Linked DNA regions of Homo sapiens. The protein of the gene in region 1 interacts with the protein of each later gene in a pairwise test. Each region holds a gene or a part of one and is shown in the gene's direction. Other genes may lie near its edges. The genes, in order: TSACC and FOXP2.

What was found.
Region 2: the proteins of TSACC (region 1) and FOXP2 interact in binary tests that used the Homo sapiens proteins (3 or more experiments, as listed by UniProt).

The regions. Positions count from the first base shown.
Region 1 is NC_000001.11:156,344,511-156,347,495, forward strand, and holds the end of TSACC (TSSK6-activating co-chaperone protein), read left to right. Parts: intron 1-69; coding exon 70-198; intron 199-2,257; coding exon 2,258-2,472; 3' UTR 2,473-2,485; downstream 2,486-2,985.
Region 2 is NC_000007.14:114,690,537-114,694,523, forward strand, and holds the end of FOXP2 (forkhead box protein P2), read left to right. Parts: 3' UTR 1-3,229; downstream 3,230-3,987. UniProt on the Homo sapiens protein: Transcriptional repressor that may play a role in the specification and differentiation of lung epithelium. May also play a role in developing neural, gastrointestinal and cardiovascular tissues.

The DNA.
Region 1 (2,985 bases):
GTGCAGGGATCTAATTAGAAAGGCTGTCCCTTGTTGGAATGAGCTCTGATTTAGTTATCTCTGATTTAGTTCCAGCCAAAGAGGAAGCTAATGCTGTGCCTCTCTGTAGAGCAAAACCCTCCCCCAGCTATATTAATCTTCAAGCAAGTTCCCCACCAGCCACTTTTCTGAACATCCAGACAACAAAGCTGCCCTCGGGTAAGGATGTAGGGAGGGTTTTCTAATGGACTCAACAGGGGGAAGGGTTGCATGGAGGAGGTGGCTTGAGCTGTCGCCTATTGATCAAGAGCCAAATCTATGTTAGGCATCTATAGATCTTTCCGTGATAGCTTGTTGATTATTTAGTTTCATTGATATCATTATCATCCCAGTTCTACCAACTTGTATTGTTTCCTTGCTTGTTAGCACTTTTGCTAGACTAGGCAGGAGTGAAGTGAACCTCTCATTGCTTACTGGTAATGTTAGTTAAAAGATGGCCAGGTTTACCCCTGTTCACTTGGGAAGGTAAAATTTTAAAAAACGGTGGCTAGAGAAGGAAACTATTAGCTCAGTCTCAGGGTCTTTGAATTTTCATCATTCATCTTCCCTTGGGGAGGTCAGTGGGTATTTGGCATAGCTATGGGGAACCCAACAGGGCACTAACTAGACAGTCATAACCCCTGTTTTTGAGGACCTCAGAGTCCAACAAAGAAGTCAAGACTGATAAAAATACAAACAGCAGATAATATAATTACCAAGGTTAACTGGCTGTGTAAAATATTAGAAAAAGTGGCTGGGCACGGTAGCTCATCCCTGTAATCCCAGCACTTTGGGAGGCCAAGGCAGGTGGATTGTCTGAGGTCAGGAGCTTCAGACCAGCCTGACCGACATGGTGAAACCCTGTCTCTACTAAAAATACAAAAATAAGCTGGGCGTGGTGGCAGGTGCCTGTAATCTCAGCTGCTTAGGAGGCCGAGGCAGGAGAATTGCTTGAACCTGGGAGGCGGAGGTTGCAGTGAGCCAAGACTGGGCCATTGCACTCCAGCCTGGGCAACAAGAGTGAAACTCCATCTCAAAACAAACAAAAGAATGGACTGGCAGGGCTCGGTGGCTCATGCCTGTAATCCCAGCACTTTGGGAGGCCAAAGCGGGCGGATTACCTGAGGTCAGGAGTTTGAGACCAGCCTCACCAACATGGTGAAACCCCATCTCTACTAAAAATACAAAAATTAGCTGGGCATGGTGGCACCTGCCTGTAATCCCAGCTACTTGGGAGACTGAGGCAGGAGAATTGCTTAAACTGGGAGGTGGAGGTTGCAGTGAGCCAGGATTGTGCCGCTGCACTGCATCCTGGGAGACAGAGCAAGGCTCCATTGAAAAAAAAAAAAAGAAAAAAGAAAAATATTAGAAAAAGAATGGACTGGCCAGGTGCAGTGGCTCACACTTGTAATACCAGCACTTTGGAAGGCCAAGGCAGGTGGATCACCTGAGGTCAGGAGTTCGAGACCAGCCTGGGCAACGTGGTGAAACCTCGTCTCTACTAATGATACAAAACTTAGCCAGGCATGGTGGCACATGACTGTAATCCCAGCTACTCAGGAAGTTGAGGCAGGAGAATTGCTTGAACCCAGGAGGTGGAGGTTGCAGTGAGCTGAGATCGTACCATTGTACTCTAGCCTGGGTGACAAGTGAAACTCCGTCTCCAAAAAAAAAAAAAAAAAAGAAAAAGAAAAAAAACAATGGACCAATGTAGCAAGAATGGTTGAAGTTAGGGAACTTCAGGTCACTGCTAATGATACACTATGTCAAGTAACAGAGGAGGCTGAGGTATCCCCTGAGCTCTAGGGAAGGTAGGCCTCCCTCCCAGACCATTTCATTCACTCATCAAATATTTGTTATATGCTGGGCATTTTTCTAGGTGCTAGGGTTAAAGTAGTGAACAAATCAGATAAAAATCCTTGCCTTCCTGGAGCTTACGTTCTAGAAGGGGGACTTAGACAAAAATTAAGTAATTATAAAATATGCCATATGACCATAAATATTATGGGAAAAGTGAAACAAGGGAGGGGGTAATAAGTTCCAGTGATTGATTTCAAATTAAAATAGGATAGCCAGGTATGCCTCACTGGGAGGTGACAGCTGGGCAAAGGTATGTCTGGGTTGGGTTGTGCCTGGAAAGATTGGAGAGGTCATTTTATTAGGGTCCTTCCAACCTCAGTACAATTACCAAATCTCTCTCCTTTGTTCCCTTGCACCTCCGTTGCTTTTCCTTCTGGAGTTGATCACAAGCCCAAGGAATGCCTAGGACTCCTGGAATGTATGTATGCAAACCTCCAGCTTCAGACCCAGCTCGCCCAACAACAGATGGCTGTTTTGGAACATTTACAGGCATCTGTGACACAACTGGCTCCTGGGAGGGGAAGCAATAACTCTTCTCTCCCAGCCTTATCTCCTAATCCATTGTTAAATCACCTGCCCCAATTCAGTAAATGAATTGTGGAACAAAGTTATTGTGTTGTTTTCCTCTCTCTTCCCAGTAAACCCTTGTTGGAATCTGGGTATATGTATTCTACATATGGTTAGTTTGTTCACAGGTTCATAATAAGTGCTCACTGAGTGCAAAGCGTTGTACAAGGCACTTGGGGTTACATATTACAAAAGGAGTTTGCAGGGATTACTGTCTAACAAAGCAGACAATTCATTGCAAAATGTAGTGGTATTCTGAAAGAGGATGGAGGTTAAGAACTAACACTGGAGGTTACTAGGATACAACTGGACCAATTTTAGAATCTTGCTGGAGAAAGTGGCTTCATGATGCCACTTGAAGAAGGGAGGGGTTGGATGGCATGGACAGATGAAGTCAGGTAGTTCCATATCAGTTGGGAAGCTTGGACAAAGACCTAGAGGTAGACGTATTAGTCCATTCTTGCATTGCTATAAAGAAATACCTAAAGTTGGGTGATTTGTAGAGAAAATATGTTTATTTTGGCTCATGGTTTGGTTCTG
Region 2 (3,987 bases), on another chromosome or scaffold:
CAGTAATTAGACTGTTGCAACCATCTAAAACCTTAGGCTTCCAGTCTGTGCTGTTAGTGTTAAGATGTAAAGTGCAATCCTAAGCTAACATTATCTGTGCAAGCACCATAGAAACATTTGCATATCTGCATAGATCTTACAACTGTACTCTTTACCTCCTTGTGATAAAGCTTTGTCTACCTGCAAACACAGTCAAAGGCTACAGCTGCAAACCAAAGCCAACTCTAACCATGGCCAAGAGCTCAAGGACAGAAGCAGCCACATGCTTTGGTCAGCCTTCTGTAACTTCAATTAGTACAAAGGAACCTTTTCCATGAACTACCTGCTGTTTTCTGATGACCTCTGGGATCTTTTCATTTAGCCCTAAACAAAGAAACAAATATGACAAAAACCACAACTAAAAAATGTTAATTCAGTCACAGAGTAATCTTCTGAGGCCAAAAGTCCATCTAAATGCAATGAAGATTTGCTTTCATTAAAGACAGAGGTGAGGACAAAATCCGCAGTGGAAGTTATGATATGCTAGAAAGCAACAAATGTGGATCACTGACCAAAACGATTATGTACTTGATGCAAATGCAGATTGCATATTGTTATATATATAGTACTTTGTGTTTTTGTTTTCCCTCATTCAGTCAGTTATTTTCAGTGGTGAATACATGTTGTTAGAAGATGTCTTGTATGGTCTTAATCTTTGTTGTGTACTATTTTTTTATAGTCTTAAGTTATAATGAAAAAACAAAAAGTAGGAACCAAACATAAAAGGTCTAGTAAAGCCAAAAATTAATTTCATATTGATTTTAAAGTGATCTAGCTGAGTTTTTACACTGAAAGCAAAGATTATAGCAATTGTAGTCCATGGTATTTATTTTCAGTCAAACCAAAGTTACATATAATTCTGCCTCTGCTTATACGGGATATTAACACTAACAATACACTCCCTTCAAAGACTTGCACAGGCCAAATTGTTGGAATGCTGGTTTTCTTGACAATTCCAAACCCCAAAACTATGATAATGAGTTATGATGTAGTTGAAAATAGCATAGTCAGATGTTTGCTTAAAACCTAGAAACTTAACATGTTGCTTTTCATGTGCTGTGCCAAGTCTTGATAATACTTTTTCCCCCAACCAAGGGACCTCATAACCTGATTATGGTTATTGCTTTACAAACAGTTTTGACAGAAGGTGGCTGCTAGAGCTTAACATACGTTCCCGTTCCATGTGATGGAACCGGTTCTTGCAAACTAAGCTCATCATTGATTCTTTGCTGAAGTCAGCAAATAGAGTTAGAGAGATACCCAGTCATCTATCACACCAAATAAAAGGACATAACGGCTTTCAAAAGGGTTTTCCCACTTACCCAAAAGGCTTTCTGAAAGCTTCTACCTCTGCAAAAAAAAAAAAAGAAAAAAAAAAAAAGAAAAACATTAGAACAATTATGGCAGATTGCATGAAACGTGAGAACGTCACAGTAACTGCTACTTTTCATTATGTTTGTCTTTGGGTCATGATCAACGAACCGGAAGTTTACAATATGGTATTAAAAGAAAGATGGGTATGGTGAAAGATGGTTTTCAGTCATCTAGGATCCTACTGTAAGGATTATCTGAAAGGAAAAATGGGTCTTTCAGGTGCATGTTCAAAAGGCTTTGAGGGACTGGAAGTAACTGCGAGAGTTGTACCATCAGAAGGGTGGCCTAAGACTACAATGCTAAAGTATGCATACCTCAGTTAGAAAACTTTTGAAAGGAAGTCTCAGCCACAGAATGCATATACCTGTAGAGTTTTGCATGGGTTTTATATGAATACAATTTTAAAAAATAGCTGCTTGCACATTATACCAGAAAAACCTCCAAAACTGCAATTGCTTTGAAAATAGATTTTAGGTTTTTTGGAGTTTCCTGAAATGCTTGGTCTGTATTTTGATAATTGTGCATATTATGTAAAAATGTTGGTGGACCCATAAATGACCAGACTTTTTCTAAGAAAAATGTTGCTTTAATGCATTTCATGAATTTTTACTCTTATATCATTGCTTGCTAGTAATAGCAAATCTGCTTTTCTGCATCTGCTTTGCGTAGCTATTGTAAGGCTTTGAACTAATGTATGTATTTATTGCTTGAACTTCTGTGCATACCTTATAAAGCATAATGTCTGACAATTTAAATGGCTCATGTATTCTTGCTTCTATCATAAGCTGATTATGGGGACTATGATCTTTTGTATACAGCAAATTTTAAACTGTAGCACAAACATCTGTTTATGTATTGGTGGAATATACCTGTTTTATTTATCTTTTTTGAGGTAAACTAATTTTTGATACTTTTCATTACTGTGTACTATGTTCATACTTTGAATTCTCTGACGTTAGAAGTCATGGTTGAGAATTGTAACAGCTGTTATTCGTTCTGTATTCATGGCTTTCACTGCTGAATAAAATAAAGGACCAAACCTAGGATTTGAAAGAAAACTGTCTACCTCTAACACCAGGGAGTTATCAGATTTTATTTTACATAGTTTTAGTCTACAAAGACACAATTGCTTAAACCTAGTGGGCTTAAGGCTTATATTCTATGTGGTTGGATTCGTGGCACAGTTGTACTATTTGAAAATCAATTAAAATTTTATGTGAATGTTACAAGTATTTGGTAGAATTACCACTAACTGGGTTTTCTTTAGATAACTCAGATATGGAGAAAATGTCATCAGCATTCTGTGTCTACAGCTGCTTAACTTCATAAGAATGCATTTCTTTGTGATTAGGGAATCGAAGAATAGTCAGCTAGGAATAGAGCTACAGAAGTACACTTACATAAACCATCCTGGACTTTAATGTCCCTGGGCAGATTCAGTCGCAAAATCCAATATGATATTTTGTAAAGTTTTCAAGTTGGACATTTACATTTTTGAGAATTTTGAGACTTCATCTTACACATGCCAGTATTAACACACATTTGGACAATAGCTTTATTAAGTCTATAAAGCTATTGAAAGGAACATGGCTTACCCTTGTTATTTCACTAGTTCAGGTTGCAACGAAAGGTTTTTTTGTCCATGAACACTTGGCATATCTTACTTAGCAAAAAAGAAGGATGTACATTTTACTATAGAATTAATGTATGAACAGTGTGTCACTGCTGTTGGATGTAAAAATGTATATGAAACCATTTCATTCACTTGATTACATTTCTGAAGTATAAATAAAAAAATCTAATTCTTTTTGACCCATTTATAACCAATAGGATTTTATTCTTTCGGAGAGACCATTCTTCCATGCCAGAGCCAAGTCATAAATTTGTATACACATGTCCCACAATTTGTTTAAAATTATTTTCTTAGGGATTTGGGATTCATAAACCAGACCATACTCAAATGTAAAGATGGAGGCTGCTTGTCAAATGCATTCCATTAAAAACTGTCTTCAGGTTCCAAATTGCTTCCCCACACACTTATCTCATGTTTTCGTGTTTTTATTCTGATACAATTTGACATTATAAATTCTGAACATTAAAAAATGCCAGGGGAAAACATGATTACTCTTTTTAACTTTATGACTTTTTTGCTTTATTGTCTTTTTTTGTTTTGCCTCTGAATATCAGTCACACCCACAGCATCCAGCCATGGTTTAGGGGAATGTGTCAGAGATAGGTAAGTAGCTTCCAAGAAAATGCTTTTTAGGATATTAGGGATCTGTTCCAGACCCATATTAGTGGAAAAAAACAGGCAAGATAGGGCCTCAGCATTAGAAAATTTCACTTCCTACTTTAACCTAACTTCCAAATCTCCTCACAATCAAAAGTAAAAGGAAAATGAATCTGTTGAGAATTTTTTAATTTTATGCATAACTTAATATTTTCTGTCATCCTAGTGAAAGGGTACCTTGAATAAAGGACTTTCCACAGGATTAAAAAATGGCTTTAAAAAGAAGTATGGACATGAGATTAATGTCCTTGAACATTACGTTTTTTTCTTTATCAACTAGTTCA